Regions from separate parts of the Homo sapiens genome. Here region 1 is linked to region 2. Evidence: fine-mapped expression QTL. A gene starts in region 2. The other region holds a variant in brackets. All regions are shown on one strand. Distances are from middle to middle.

The links. PIP is the estimated chance that this variant, and not a neighbour inherited with it, causes the effect.
Region 1: its variant is fine-mapped to the expression of VRK2 in whole blood (TOPMed, PIP above 0.99).

The regions. Positions count from the first base shown.
Region 1 is chr2:58,154,593-58,162,904 of GRCh38, reverse strand. It overlaps VRK2 (VRK serine/threonine kinase 2), which reads right to left. Exons shown (of 13, transcript NM_006296.7): 13 at 3,034-3,556. The coding sequence ends at 3,212. FANCL (FA complementation group L) reads left to right here. Exons shown (of 14, transcript NM_018062.4): 11 at 1-39; 12 at 1,267-1,383; 13 at 2,726-2,797; 14 at 3,105-3,658. The coding sequence ends at 3,140. Among named protein-coding and RNA genes, the nearest start is that of FANCL, 83 kb to the left of the region's middle. The variant G/A (reference allele first, on the strand shown) is at 3,040.
Region 2 is chr2:58,041,751-58,050,098 of GRCh38, reverse strand. VRK2 (VRK serine/threonine kinase 2) reads right to left here and starts at 3,293. Exons shown (of 13, transcript NM_006296.7): 1 at 3,231-3,293; 2 at 1,132-1,272. The coding sequence starts at 1,267. LOC107984043 (formin-2-like) reads left to right here and starts at 2,866. Exons shown (of 3, transcript NR_171623.1): 1 at 2,866-3,575. RefSeq lists a silencer at 3,041-3,310 and enhancers at 2,914-3,469, 3,461-3,580, 3,470-4,025.

The sequences.
Region 1 (8,312 bases), 110 kb before region 2:
GAAATTGATTTTCCAGCTCGTGCTATCCTGGAAAAATCTGTAAGTTTTATCAGTGTTTTGATATTCCAGACAGTATTGCATAATGAAGTTTAAATGCTTCTCTCAGTGAAAAATGAGGCTGAAAAAGGAGGGAATTAGAAAAATATTATAACACAGACTTCTGATCTGCATCAAAAAACTTGTTTACCTTTGATTGGTTGTTAAGTACAACTGTCTCTTGGAACAGGGGGATTGATTTCAGGGCTGCCCATGGATACAAAAATCCACAGACATTAAAGTTCCACAGTTACCCTGCAGGACCCATATATAGAAGAAGTCGGCCCTCTGTATACAGAGATTTCACATAAACACAGGTTCTGCATCTTGTCAGTACTGTATTTTTGATCTGCATTTGGTTAAAAAAAAAATCTGTGTATAAGTAGACCTGTGCAGTTCAAACCCATGTTGTTCAAGGGTCAACTATATACTTTTTTCATGGTCTTCAGTAGTGACGTCATTAATGACAGACATTTATTAAAAATAAGGGGAGAACTCCAAAGTAGCTAATGAGATGTTTGGCTTTTCTACATAGTCTGTTTATGGATGGCTCAAATACTGATTAGCTTGATGTAAGTGTTTGTGAAGCAGTTATAGTTTCTCAAAATTGAATAGATACCACTATACTGCAAAAATAATAGAATTGATTTTTGACAAGGCTGCTAAGGTTGTAGACTACTAAATGGTAGTGAGTTTCTTTTTCCTTTAGTTACAGAATTGTGCTGTTTAGTAATCACTAGCTAATATCAATTCCTTTCTTTAAATACTATCAGGGACATTATAACAATGTATGATATGGGAATATTACTGATGCCCAAACATCTTGCCAGCCAAAAATGGAATCTCTTTTTTTAGCCTAGCTGTGTATATTTGAGTGGAAAAGGAAACACCCTACAATAGCTTTGCTAGGTGTTAAATAGTAATGTAATTATATTTCCTATAATACAGCAATATAGTCACCTTTATAAAAACTATATTTATAAAACATTCTTCCTGATCTTACCTTGTGTTTTAAACACATAGATGATTTCGTATTCTAAAGTAGTTAGAAGAATTGTAATGTTCCCAACATAAAAGGTAAATGTTGAGGTGATGAATATCTTAATTATCCTGATGTCATCATTAAACACTGTATACATGTATCAAAATATCACACATACCCTCCCAAATATGTACAACGAATAAGTTAGTGAGACACATACGCTTTTTATAAATATTTTTCTTTTGAAGGATTTTACTATGGATTGTGGAATTTGTTATGCTTATCAACTTGACGGTACCATTCCTGATCAAGTGTGTGATAATTCTCAGTGTGGACAACCTTTCCATCAAATATGCTTATATGAGGTAAAAAATAAAAATATTGTCAAGACTTTTTTCCGCTAACACAACATAGGAAGTATTCCTGTTTGAAATACACAGAATCTAAAATCTGTTGAGTCAATAGTGATCCTCTCTTTTGCCATTAACTCCTTTTACCAGTTTATTCCAGATGCTTATGTGCTTCATTTCTTCATCACAGTTACTAATGAGTGGAGAAATGTTCTGAAGTATCCAAGGGAGAAAATCTATCCAGAATATATTCATGGACTAGCTTATTGACACATAACAAATTAAATTGATGGTACATTGGAATCTTTCTATAAATTCCTTGTTACCACAATGTAAGCTTCATAGGTTTACCCGAGGTGGAGGTGGTTGAAAGTGGCAGTAATACAGTGAAAATGAAATTAGTACTATGTAGTATCTATTACTTTTCAGGCTGCATTTAAGAATAGAATATATCCAATACTACTACTTTTCATGTTGAGAAGAATGCCTTTTGTGATCTGAGTCTCACAGCACTCAGGCAATGCCACTTTACTTACTGTATGTGAAGTCTACTTTCATTCCTGTCTTTAGTGCCTGGCTTCACCTTAGGGCCTAGTTGATACATGATAAACTGTGTGTAACTATATACAGAACACCTTGCAATTGTATGTTGCCTTCGGTTTCAGTCTTCCTTAATATCACATCTTTACTTTTGTGATTAGAGGTAGCAGTTGGTGCCGTCTGTACTTTGCCAATGGAGAACTTAGGCAGAGGCATCTATTTACCTTATATAAAATCATGAAATTACAGAAATACAGGTCAAATTACAGAAATACTCTAAGGGAACATGTGATTTCTTTTGTAATTATGAATATTCATTTAATTTTTAAAAATTCACTGGCTCATGCTTATAATCAATGGGTTGAAAATTAACCCACTGTTAGTGATTCAGACCAGAACTAAGAGGGAAATTTTCAAGAGCCTGTAGTATCTTTAACAGCAGGAGTTGTTAATTTGTGATTAATGGATTTAGGGAAAGTCTATGAATGCCAGGAACTTAGTATGCATTATTTTTATGTATGTCTATTCTGGGGATAAAGAAAATGCGTAATTCTTATCAGATTCTTAAAGGGGCCCATAATCTGGTTATAAACCAGTGGTTTAGGCCTTCAATTCCATGTTGATTTCCCTTGTTACTCAACATCTTAATAGTCTGCTATTGGCTCAGGAAATACATCCCTTACTCTTGCAAAACAAAATTAAGCTAAGTCTTCTGGAATAAAAACATAATGCACTTAAAAACAAAGGGAATGACATTTGGAGTATCTGTAATTTGTAATCATGCTGACGCTTCTCCTTTATCTTTTAAAATTTGCAGTGGCTGAGAGGACTACTAACTAGTAGACAGAGTTTTAACATCATATTTGGTGAATGTCCATATTGTAGTAAGGTAAGCAAATTGTTAATCACATCTCATAAAATGTGCCTAGCTTTCAGTAATATGTTCTAGAAGATAGATCTATATAGTATATCAGTTTATCTAAAACTTTTGAAACTCATTCTCTGTATTTCTATTTTTCAAATTCTCTGATCAAAAACATTAAACTCCTTTTCTAGATTTCCTAGGTGATCTGAAACTTCAGAAGTGTTTTCCAAACTGTACTATGACACTATTCTATGACACTATTTCTA[G/A]TACAAAGCAATTTTATTTTTTAGAGTGTCCACAAACTTTGTTAAAATATGTTCTCTTTTTAAAGCCAATTACCTTAAAAATGTCTGGAAGGAAACACTGAAATAAGAATACAACATTTCGGTGAAGAGCTGGAAACTTAAAAAATTATCAAAAGGAATTTTGGTATCATCTTCAGAGAAAAAATAAAGCAAGAAATACTAACATCAAAAGGACAGGTATGATGATGCGATAATAATAAACATCTGCGTTTGTCTCTTCACTAAGAGTAAACTGGGAAATTGTAGGCCAAAGTCCAGTTGAACTTTCTAAGTCTGTGATCCCCGTGCTGACTGTGGAAGTGTATTTATACCAAGATGGAGATCTTGACTTCTTGAATATATCTGGACTGGTAAAATCTTGATGAGGCTCATAAAATGAGTTTGGGAATTGTGTATAGCTGATTTTTTGTGGGAAACTGTTTACTTCATTCAAAGGTTCTTGAGACTCTTGATATTTCTGTCTTCTCCTTGTGCTTTCCTATGGAAAAAATACATATATAGTTTAGTTTGTTAGACGTGAGTTATCCAAGTATTTATTTTGTGTAGTGTGTAAGAATGCTAAATAAAATGTTATACAAGATCAAGTTTTTGCGTGTTATTTTTCCTGAGAAGTAATTTTTAGGTAAAGATCTTAAAGATTTACACTTTTTAAGAGTTTATAAACATCCAACAAGCAAATCTGGATATAATTTGAGTGGTTCTTTTAAACCACGTCAGTAGGCCATCTCTTAAGTAATTTATAATCTAAAAATAAATAGGATAGAATATGAAAACTGAATTTTCTTGGCAAAACCAAAAAATTGGGCTTAATCTTAAGGGGGTAAGATAGCCATAATTAGAAATATTTTGGTCATTAATGTGATTCTTTCTTTACCTTCTGATTCCATGGCAACTGAGAAGTGTCCACTGTACAGTGGGCAAAGGATGAGGCTGTACACAGCCAAAGAAAACTGCCTCAGGGGTAGCTATAGTGTTATGTCTCTTGGAAAGCTATACAGACGAACCAGTATAGACCGAATAGATATTAATATAAAGCAAATTAAGTGGTATTAATATAAAACAAATTAACTGGTTACTTATGCAAGTTTCGGGAGCTACTTCTATGTTTTCATCATTCCTGTTGGCCAAAGTCCCAGGAATCAGTTTCCTGATCACCACTTAACTGGCTGAAAGTCGAGTTTTTCTGCTTTGCTTTGGTGACATCTGGCATGCCCCCTCAGCACCATTTATCAAGTAACTAACTTAGAAGAGAAGAAATTTATAAAACAAAGCAAAATACTTTAAGCTTGTTCACTGTCCATCATTCTCAGAATAGCTACTACCTTCTCAACCTTTAAACTGCCACCCTTCAAACAAACAGCCCTCCCCTTTCTAGATACAGAGTTTTGGAAGTGTCAGAAAGGAGTCCTACATAAAACAAAGGATGTTTTAAAAACTACTAGCTTTCCTATGAAAAAAAATTACTTGAGAGTTAAATGACTCACTTTAGAGTTAAATAACTCATTTTAAACTACTCTTTCTGAGCTAACGAAGTCACATTAATGCAGTTTTTCATAAGTTTGTCAGCTTTATTAACTAAAGTCAAAATAAGTGAATAATTATTCCAGTAGGCCTATAAAGCATAATACAAATAATAATTATGCTATCAAATCATAGAGCAGCATTTACATATAGCTCACATGTGCAAGGCTGGGAGATATCTCCACTTAGGTAAGGATAGAAGTCAAGCTACTATAATTTCCAGAATCATCTACTGTGTAATCTATACACTTAATCTCTCTTGAACATCAGCAAATGACATCATATGGCAAGGCACTCATCAAAGAATTTAACCACCTGTTGTCTTCAGTACACTGAGGGGGTCTGATTAGGATAGTCTATAACAGGAGTTGCCAAAATTTGGCTTGGCTAGTTGCCTGTTTTGTGAATAAAGTTTTATTGGAACAGAGCCACATCAATTTGTTTATGTATTGTCTATGTGGGCTTTTGCACTACAATGGCATTGTTGAATAGTTCTGACAAAAACTGTATGGAAAGTAAACTGAAAATATTTTCTTTCTGGCCTTTTAAGAAAAGGTTTGCTGACCCCTGCTCTACGGCATTATTCTTCGAGTATTAGAAAGCAAACAGATCATCATAACTTGTTAAAATGCAGATCTCATTCAAAAGGTCTAGGAGTATGACCTGAGATTCTGTATTTCTGAGAAGCTCCAGATGATGCCAATACAGCTGGTCTGCACACCCCACTTTGAGTAGCAAAGGGCTCAAGGCAATGCAATAATCTACTGTGATAGAGCATTGGTTCTCAGCCTGGGTTGATCCTGCCCCACAGAGGACATTTAGCAATTTCTGGAGACATTTTGGGTTGTTACAGCTAGGAGGAGATACTATTGACACCTAGTAGATAAGTACTAGGAATGATGCGAAACATCCTACATCACAGGACAGCACCCCCACAACAAATAACAGCTCAGCTCCCAAATGTCAACAGTGCAGCTGTCAAGAAACCCTACATTAGAATAGTTATTAACTTTGAATGCACATCAGAATCGACTGGGAAGCTATGAAAAATAGCAACACTACTTCCACTCTGGCCATGAAAATCTGATACCAGACTTCCCCTTCTGCTGTGAAAACCCATAAATAAATAATAGAAAACAAAATTAGTCAAAATATGTGAAATAACTTAGGGATCTAAAACAAAGCTCAGGAAGGGAAAATAACACAGACCTAAGAAAGGCCACAATTTAAGATTTACTGCAGACTAGGCCAAAAAAGCCTGAACAGAACTTATAAAATGATCAGGTTTAGTCACCAGTAAGTTAACTGTCTGCCAGAACTAACCTCAAAACTCTTTAAAGGAATGCAATAAAATCTGGAGTCTAAAGACCACAGCATCCACAATGTTCAGTATACAATAAAACTACTACAAATGAGATGCAGGAAATGTGACCCATAACCAGGAGAAAAAATTAACAGAGATTCAGGGCTGATCCAGATGGTACAATTATCAAACAAGGACTATAAAACATCTACATAAATATGTTCAAGGAATTAAAGTTGAACATAATTAATGAACAGATATGGGGGAGGTGGAATCTCAACATACAAAGAAATATACTTGTGGAACTGAAAAATACAGGGTATAACATGAAAAATTCATTGGCTAGGTTTAACAGCTGATTTGACAATCAACTAGAGGTCAGGCAAAAACAAAACAAAACAAAACAAAACAAAACAAAAAAAACACCACCACCCAACCTGAGGTACAGCAACATAAAAGACTGATTTAAAAAAATAGTTATTTAGCTGCCTATGAAAAAGGTAAAGTATTCTAACATGCATGTATTTGGAACTCAGAGAAATAAGAGAGATTAAGGCATGAAACAAATTGATGAAATCATACAAAACCTTTCCAATTTGAAGACAAATATCAACCCACAGATAAAAGCAGCTCTACGAACCCAAAGCACAATAAACAAAAGACAGCCATCCTTACAAAACCAAAAATAACAAGCAAATCTTGAAAGCCACAGAAAGAAATACATTATAAATGGGCCAATAAGAATAACTGCTAACTTCTTAGCAGAAAAAAAAACAGACCTATGAAGATGGAAACATCCTTTTTAAAGTTCTGAAAGAATAGATTCCATATTCAATGAAGCTTTCAAAATCAAAGTGAGGGGCATCCAGTTATAGACAAGAAAGAGTAAGCATCCCACCTTATTCTGGTAATTAAAGAGTGGACAAAAAGCACCTATCAAAACACTGAAAATTCTAAAAATGACCCTCCCTTGAGTCTCCACCCGCCATGTACTTTAGTACCTCCTATTACCCCAGCCTGGGCCATAAAAGAGCCTGCGTTCTGGAAACAGCAATATGCACAGACTGGAAAAAAAAAAAAACAAACATGAAAAACATGCTCTATGTAACCAATAGCCCTGGGGGAGGACAGGTCTACAGGACAGAATCTTTTTATACCTGCTGAACCCTAGGTGAACACCATGAAAGAAGCTGTACCTTACTTCTCTCCAGGTGCTGTGGAAACGGGGCGGCGGGGTGGGGGGGATGGTGGGGGCGGTGGGGAGGTGGCAAGGGTGGGGTGAAGAGGGAGGGTACAGTCCTGTTGAGTATCATCACCCTACACTAACCAGGGAGCACACCTACCCTTCCCCCATCAAGCACTGTGGAGACAGGTAGAGCCCTGTTGACCGTCCTCACACTAACAAGGTGATACCCTATCCCACTGGGTGTTAGGGAAATTGTGAGATAGAGCTCTGACAACCTTTCCCAGCCTGTACTACTGAGGTGGTCCCCCTTCCTTCCCACCAGGAGACTACCAAAACTGTAAGGCAGAGCCATATAGCCTGTTCCTCCCTGCACTAACACAAGCAGATGTGGTACCTGTCTTCCTCCCCACCAGACACTGTAGAGACCGTAGTAGAGAGCTACCAACCTTCTCCACCTTGCACTGAGCAAACATCAGAGCAACAGCAACCCTCCACTCTGGCCTCAGAAACTGGAGAGGCACTTGCCCTTTTGACCGTGCCTGCTGTGCATTAAACAGCAAAGAGTTGGCATCGCACATCTCCCTAACTAGAAAGCTCTGTTCTCAGTAATTGATATAACTACTAGAGTGAAAATCAGCAGGAATATAAAATAAATCAGTAACATCACAAGATAATGGGATCTAGCTGATATTTATAGACTACTTCACCCCCAAACAGGAAAATACATGTTCTTTTCAACTGCAACTGGAACATTCAACCAGGCAGACCGTCATATCCTATCCATAAAACAAACCCTAACAAATTTATATTGTTAGACCATAATATAATTAAACTAGAAATCAATAACTGAAAAAAAAATCTTCAGATACTTGGGAATTAACACATTTCTAAATAAGGTATTAAAAGTCTCAAGGGGAAATATATTTTGAAGTGAACAAAATTGAAATGTATAAATATTTACAGGATGCAGTACAAACAGGGTTTAGCAGGACACTTATAGCATGGAATACTTACATTAGAAAAAATAGTGGGTTCAAATCAATAGCCTAAGCTTCTACCTAAACTGGAAAAAAGGGAAGAAAATACACCAAGATCAAGATGAAGGAAAGAAATAATAGGAAAATCTCCAAATGCTTTAAAATTTAAAGACCCCTTTAAATGGGTCAAAGAGACCCCAGGAAAATTAAAAAATACATTGAACCGAATGGAAATAAAAATACAACA
Region 2 (8,348 bases):
TCTATTGAACAGTGTTGACTATGTCATTCAATCTAGCACTTAATAACCATAGTATTTTTTCAAGCAATTTCAAGCAAGTTCAAACCCTTTAAATGGGTCCTTTACTTGACTCATACAATTTTTTGTGCTGATCTTGTCTTTCCAACTAGAATAGACACTTAAGTATTTAATAAGCAGATATTTATTGACCAAACTTCATTCATTCATTCATTCAAAACTACAATCTTAATTTTATCAGAAGAGGATCTTTTATATTTCAGGATCCATGAAGCATGTTTTTCTGGAAATATGTGATGAGAACCCAAGATTCCCTCAACGGAGGTATTTTATCAACTCCTTAATCTCCTATAGAAATAGATGTGATCTCAAGTCTCAAGTGAGTACATTTAGGAGAATTTATCCTTGAGGGTATATTTTTAAAAATCACTACTATTTTCCTTATTTTATTAATCAATCTTTTAATGGATATCCCCTCCTCATTCCAACTCAATGATCCATTAAAGTTCAGTGTAATTTTTAAATGCTTAAATGCAATGTAAAGGCCTATCCAGCCCATGGTTCCTTACCTGTACCACAGATCACAGAAAATAATTTTGAGTGTTTATTTTTTCAATTATCCCAAGAATGGCACATCCCTAGGGACCACTCTAGATGCACGAGAGAGAAGTTAATTCATTTCACAGAATAGATGCCTTAAGTTTTATCTATGAATTCTCCAGTAGAGCCCAATTAAGAAATGACTAGACTCTTGTATTGCCTAAATATTGATTAAGATTCACAAACAGAAAGTGTTTTTATCTATACAGTTGTGGTTTCTCATCTGAAAAAAGCATGTTTCTAAGAAAACAAGCTCTCAAAAAAAAAGAAAGTTAGCATTTTGTCTGGCAGATTGTATAATTATGCTCTAAAAAGACTTCTAAGATTTACTCAGAAAAACATGGACAACAAGGAGTGGGTCAGTGATGTCTTGAACCTAGACACTGTACTCTATTATTACTTAATCGAGTACAATCATGAATTTTAATAAAGTACACATATGAATTCCATATTTCCATTCTTAAAATACCACTAAGTAATCACGGTTACAGTCACAGATATAAGAATAATTGTTAATTTAAGGTTTTACTTTACCTAAATATATCAATCCAAATCCTCCAGAGCCAATCTTCTTGCCCAGTACCCACTGATTGCCTTCCATATCATCCAGAACCTTGCCTTCTGGAAATGGAATAGGAAGTTTGTATTTTTCATTTCTTTTTGGTGGCATCACTTCTGTTGGCAGAAGGGGTGAGATAAATGGGTAAAAAGAAAAACAAACAAACAAAACTCTTAAAATACACTTCCCAAAATGTCTTCAATAGGGAACTTTCCCAGGTTCCCAGAAATTAGGATTCTAAAGTTAATTCAGTTTGGAAAAGCCCACACATTATATTCAAATTAGAAATTCACATACATTACAATACTGAGATCTAAGAGGTATAGATATTTTAAAAAAACAGAAGCAAACTAACCAAATTTCATCCAAAATTCATTTCGGGGTTCTATAGCACATATTAACAGTGCAGGACACACCTTAAGAAACACGAAATTAACAATTTCCAATGAAGAAAGAAAATAAATTTCATGTACATGGAAATATTGCTGTCACTGAGAATGTAAAATGTTAAAAGTGAGAAGGTCTTCAGTCACTAGAAAAGAACACAGGATTGGATTGGGAAGACACAGACAATGGCAATGGACATCTCACCACCGTGATACTAGGTACTCAGTAAACATTTGTTAAATGAGCCAGGGATTTTCACGGATATGTAACTTAGCAGAATACTAGGCCATCAGTTCTCGGGCTGCCAAAATATTCTCAGCATTTTGTCTTCTTACCCTCTTTCTCAGTTTATCACAGTGAAAACAGTCCTGCCTTAGAGATTACAACTGTGCCACCAACAACAAAAGCATAATCTCCACAGCACAGCCATGCAACTTTAATCAACTAATTATAATTGTACATAGGTTAGCAAATTTCTCAATGGGAAATTCTGAGTTAAAAGAGAAAATTTCTTAGGGGAAAATACATATGCCAGCATACATGCCTGAAAATAATTTAAATGTGAAGGTAACCATGATCCTCTAAGTATTTAAAACTATTAAGAGTTTCTGACATGAAAGTTAATTAAAAACGTATATACGTAAATGTAAAGTTTTCTTAATATAATCTTCCTAGCTTCCATAAAAGAAAGTATCTGTTTTTCCTTTAACGGGTTTTTCCTCCTTCACTTAACTGCTTTTTTACTTAGCAGTATTGTCCCAGGTAGAGTCGCTGCGTGTATCTTTAACAATATTCACCTTCCTCCTGATAGGCACACAAGGGCTGGGAATTTGGATGGTGAACTATGCCTAGAGCATTGATTGTATCATAAAGCAGGAAAAGTTTTTGTGGAGGTTTCCCTTGACCAGTACATTATATAGGCTGGTGCCTATTACAGATTTACTGATTTAAAACTTAAAGTCTCCAAAGTGTAAACTACTGATTAAGGAATAAATTCTAAATAATTATAAAAAAGATAAATACACTTTGGGGCAAGGCAGCGGCCTCAGGGCTTGAGGCGGTAAGGGAGACTCTACGAAATGTACATCCTGGGGGCGAGTCCCGAGTTCATCTGCCAAGGGAAACGACAGCCTCTCAGGGCCCGTCCCTGTCAGGGGTGTCCCTTCGGCTTCTGGGTACCTTCCCAGGGCTAAGATGAGTCCTCAACACGAGTTTCCGAGCAAACTGGTACCCAGGGGTTAACATGTGCCTGGGCTGACCTCCAACCCCGCCGCGGCCCCTGACCCTGCGGAAGGTAACGAGAAGCAGCGCGGCCCAGCCGCCTGGTCCGTCCGCCCTTAGCACGCCGGGGACCTACGGCCAACCCCGCGCCCCAACTTCCCGCCACAAGTTCTCTCTGCACCGGCAAAAAGAGAAACTCCACCCACTTTTCCGCTAACACGTCGGACCCGCTTTTGGCAAACGTGAGTAGAAGGGGACGCCTTGTTCTCACTCCCAGCGGGGAAAAAAGAACCAAACGCGGAAGCAGCGACTCTGCCCGGGCCGGAGCTGAGGCCCGGGGGCTGGGACGGCCCGGAGTCCCCGGCATCTAACTCCGACGGCAGCCCTTTTCCGAGCGGGGCCGCGGCTCCGGCACTGCAAGCGGAGGTGCCGCCCGCCACCCAAGACCCCAGAGCAAGAGACTGACCGGGCCTCAGGATCCCCCGTCGCCGGGCCGCGCGCACCGCCTCCTACCTGCCGCTGCGACGAGGCGGAGCCCCCGGGCCTACAGTCCCGCGGGGAGGCGGGCCCAGCACTCGAGCCTGCCCTCCCTAGGACCTGCCTAACTTCTCTCCAGCTGCGTCGGCCTCGCAGTGCAGCGGCCCGCGGAGCCTCACACAGGCCGCAGCCGGTTCCTTTCAGCGGCCTGTCCACGCCCCGGAGACGCCCAGGGGAAGGAGAGGGCGCGGCTACATGGGGAATGGGAGCTGTGTTACTACCTCCACCCTGGCCCGCCAGCGTCTGGACGAAGAACCGCCGCCAGACCAGTTTGGTACGAAATAAGCACGACATGCATTTGTGTAGGAGTGTTAGATCTCCTGTACCACAACCTGAGTACTACGAGCTTCCAAATGGCTAGTCCTTACCGAGCTCTCGCCGAGCAACTAACTATTGGTACTAGCGAAGACTCCAGTTAGGAGGGCCTGTATGTAACTCACCGCGTTTAAGTTCTCAAAGGCATATTGGTTCAGGACCTATTTCTGCCATTAATCGTAGGATAATTTAACACCGTAATTAACAAACTTCAGGTTTTTTTGTCTGTGAAATGGAAATAACCCTTGTTGTTAGATTATAAGGTTATTGGTTATAAGATTATGACAATAAGGTGAGGACTTTATTAAGCAGTTTTCTAATACATAAAGACTCATAGTGGCCAGGTGCGGTGGCTCACGCCTGTACTCCCAGCACGTTGGGAGGCCGAGGCGGGTGGATCATCTGAGGTCAGGAGTTTGAGACCAGCCTGGCCAACATGGTGAAACCCTATCTCTACTAAAAATACAAAAAATTAGCCAGGCGTGGTGGCGGACGCCTGTAATCCCAGCTACTCGGCAGGCTGAGGTAGGAGAAGCGCTTGAACCCAGGAAGCAGAGATTGCAGTGAGCAGAGAGCGCGCCACTGCACCCCAGCCTGGGCAGCAAGAGGGAAACTCAGTCTCGAAGGAAAGAAAAAAAAGACTCATAGTAAGCTTATATTTTAGACTAAACCAAACAAATGCTTAGACAAAGATTATTAATACGTCAGCATTCTACATAGTAACCACCAATAATTGGTTGGGATACAAATACTGAAAGGAAAATTAGAGCCCTTTAATGACTTTGATAGAATAAGGAATTGGGGCTCCCTACATCTTTCAGACTGTCACCAAAATGAAAGATGGCATGAGAAGACGTTTCTAAAAACAAACAAAAAAGTATTTTTAAAGAAACAGTCCATAGAATAATTGTGCCCTTAGTCATTCACTGGTCCAACAGTGTCCTTTCTTATTTTCTTAAGATATTTATATAACAGATGCATAATTACAGATATTTATGTAACAGATGCATAATAATCCTAATATCCATATTGGGTACTCTTTCCTCCTTTCCAAATTTGTTTAGCTTTCCACCACTTCCCCGGCTCCCTTTTGAGAAGAAACAACTCCAGTAGCAACCACAGCAGATTACTTGTAGGTGGTTCCTCTCCCTACAGGCATGTATCCAGTGTTAGTAAATCCTGTTGGCTCAACCTTCAAAATACATCCAGCATCTATCACTTAGCACCCTTACCTGCATTCTGGCCCAAACCATATTTTTTCTCTAGGTAATTGTATTACCCTCCTAAATGTTTTATACCCTCTTATCCCTTTAGTCTGTTCACAGCAAGCAGCCACATGATCCTTAACGCTTAAATAATTACTGAGCTTAAAACAATTCAGTGTTATTCCAATTTACTCACAATTAGCCAGTCTTCGCTATGACTTTAAACAGCATTTCTCAACCTGGGCACTATTGACAGTCAGCCTGGATAATTCTTTGTTGGGGGTTTGGGAGAAGGAGGAGGATTGAGAGATAGGCTGTCCTGTGCATTGTAGGATATTTAGCAGTATCCCTGGTCTCCTCAGCACTCCCTCCCACACAAGTTAACAACCAAAATATCCCCCAACATGACGAAATTTTGCCAAAATTGCCAGTCGTTGAAAAGAACACTGATCTACCTATTATGCACTCCCACTCCCCAATGTCCTATTACTCTCTTCAACCACAGTGGCCTGCTGTTCTCAAGAACTTTTCGCATTTACTGCCACCTGGACCACTCTCCAACCTGGTATCCGTATAGACTGCTCCATCACTTCCTTCAGGTCTTTATTTAAAAGTCAGTTCAGTGAGACCTTTCCTAAACATCCTATCTGAAATTTCAGCTCACCCACAATATTTCGTAGCCTCTTTCCCTGTATTTTTCCCAGTACCTACTGCTATACAGCAATATATTATACAGTTTATTATTTATTTTGACAAAAGACAATCTTTTTCAGTAAATTGTATGTTTCATGAGGTCAGGCAACATTTTTGCCTGTTTTCGTCACTACTGTATCCCCAACCCCTAGAAAGGATATGGGCAACCATTTCCTTCTTCAATGAATAAATGAACCATGCTGGCCCCATTCCAATTCCCATGATTGGTTTAGACAGTACAAAATAAGCATGTGCTGAGTCTAGGTAACGAGGTGAAAAGAAGTTTGCTGGACACATTCTTGGAAGAGATAGTCTCTGATGTGATGGTTAAAATGGCTGCAGTCATCGTGTGACCACAAAGATGGGAAAAAGTACTAATCTAAAGCCCCAGGAATGGCAGAATATTCAACAAATGTTAGAACAGCTAGACATCCATATATACAAAAAAAAGAAGAAAGAAAGAAACCTCAACCCTTAATTCACACCCCATGTAAAAATTTACTTGAAACTGATCATACAGCTAAATCTAAATACAAGATCTAAATCTCAAACTTTTTAGAGAAAACCTAGCAGAAACTCTATATAATCTTTAAATGTGTGCACTTATAAAGTATAAAAAATTTAAAAGCTGGAAACCTAAAAGAAGAAATTGACAATTTAACTTCATCAAAATGAAAAACTTTTGCTTTTCAAAAAATACTAATAAGTTACCAAGGATTTGGAACAACTTGGAACTCTCTTATATTGCTGTTGATGGTACAGCCACTCTGGAAAACAGTTTGGCAGGTTCTTATAGTGTCAAACATATAATTAACATACAACCCAGCATTCGCATATTTACCCAAGATAAATCTAAACCTGTATCCACACAAAGACTTGTAGGGGAATCTTTAGAGCAGCTTCATATGTGATAGCCAAAACTGGAAATAAATTTCCATCAACTGGTGAATGAATAAGCAAATTATACTATATCTACTATACAATGAACTATCACTCAGCAATAAAAAGGAGCAAAGCACCAATACAGTCAACAAGCTGGATGAATATCAAAAACACAATGCTATGTAAAAGAAGACACAAAGGAGTATATATAATATAATAATTTATTCGAAATCGAAGAGCTGGGATTGACTGCAAGGAGCTGAAACGTTGCAAATGTTAAATTTCTTTACTGTGGTAATAGATACATTATTATACATTTGTCAAAATTCCTCTAGTTATACACTTAAAATTGAATTATATATAAATTATGCCTTAATAAAATCGATTTAAAAGAATGGCAAAAGAGAAAGATAGGAAGATCCTGAGTCTTTGAGGCCATTATTGAACTACTAATTCAACTAATCCTGAACCACCATATTTTCATATTCATCCATGAAGTGTTAAGTGTTCTTATGATTTAAACCACTTAGCATTGGTTTTTATATTTCTTGCAGCCAAAATCTTCCTAACAGTAAAATAAAGTTTCAAGTTTCATAAGTGCCAATGATTTTTAAATGTTAATAAATTTGTACTAAATAAAAATGGCAACAGGAGCAGGTAAACCTATATTGAGAATATGTGTTTTTTTTAAGTGTTGGGATTTAATGCAGAATTTTATGATTCAGAGCATATTGCTGTGTGTATGTTTCAAGATGAAAACTGACAGAATATAGAAATACAAATTTTGGAACTAGTGAAAGAACATCTTCTGAATGAACATGATGAGAAACAAGAAAGAAAAGAGAATCTAGACATGAAAGCAGTGAAGTGTGAGTCATCAGAAAAAAAATATGGGGAAAACTAGGTTTTCAAACAAAGCTATTTTGATAGATCTTACAGGCTATGAATGATTCACCACAAATACACGCACACAAAAGGACTTTCTTGGCTGTATGCCAACTTGTAGGTATGGCATGCGTTCTGCTTTTCAAAGAACTGGGTGCTATAAAATGCTTACACTGGTTAAAAAGAAAAAGAAAAACCCAACCATTTAGTAAGCATACTTTACAAGGCCAAGATCATTTCAAATCAATTAAAATGTTAAAGATGATGCATAGACAAAACATTCAGAAAAAGCCAATTTTTGTTATTTAAAGTGAGATAAGGAGATCATATCAGTGAACGTGTTTTGCCTGCCAAAGAAGAGCTAGTATTTTTGTTCTGTAAAAATCAGGAGGCCATTTGCACTCATAAACTTACAATCTCTAAACAGCTAAGCAGTTCCTGACATAGAAATTTTGAAATTAATAATTTTGAAAATAATAGAATTCAGGTAAATGGAATTCCAAGCCCATTAGATAAACAATCAGACCAAGTATCTATGTCCTCTGCATTCTTTACATATAAGATCATTACAAAGTATAAACTTAATCATCCAAATGACATAATTCTTCATTGTCTATATAAATGAAGAATTAGAATATTAAAAATAATTTAAAATGTCATATCAATATGTCATGTAAACCAAAAAGTATCTGAGATAAGTCTCAATCAATTTAGAAGTTTCTTTTGCCAAGGTTAAGGACATGCCCGGGATACAGCCTCAGGAGGTCCTGAGAACATGTGCCCAGGATGGTTGGGCTACAGTTTGGTTTCGTATGTTTTAGGGAGACAGAAGACGTCAATCGATACTTGTAAAATGTACATTGGTTCAGTCTGGAAAGGCCCGACAGCTTGAAAGGGGGGTAGGAGGGGGGAGTTCCAGGTCATAGGTGGATTCAAAGATTTTCTGAGTTTATCTAAAGACCTGGAATCAGCAGAAAGGAATATCTGGGTTAAGATAAGGGGTTGTGGAGACCAAGGGTATTAGTTTACTGATGGAGCCTCCAGGTAGCAGGCTTCAGAGAGAATAG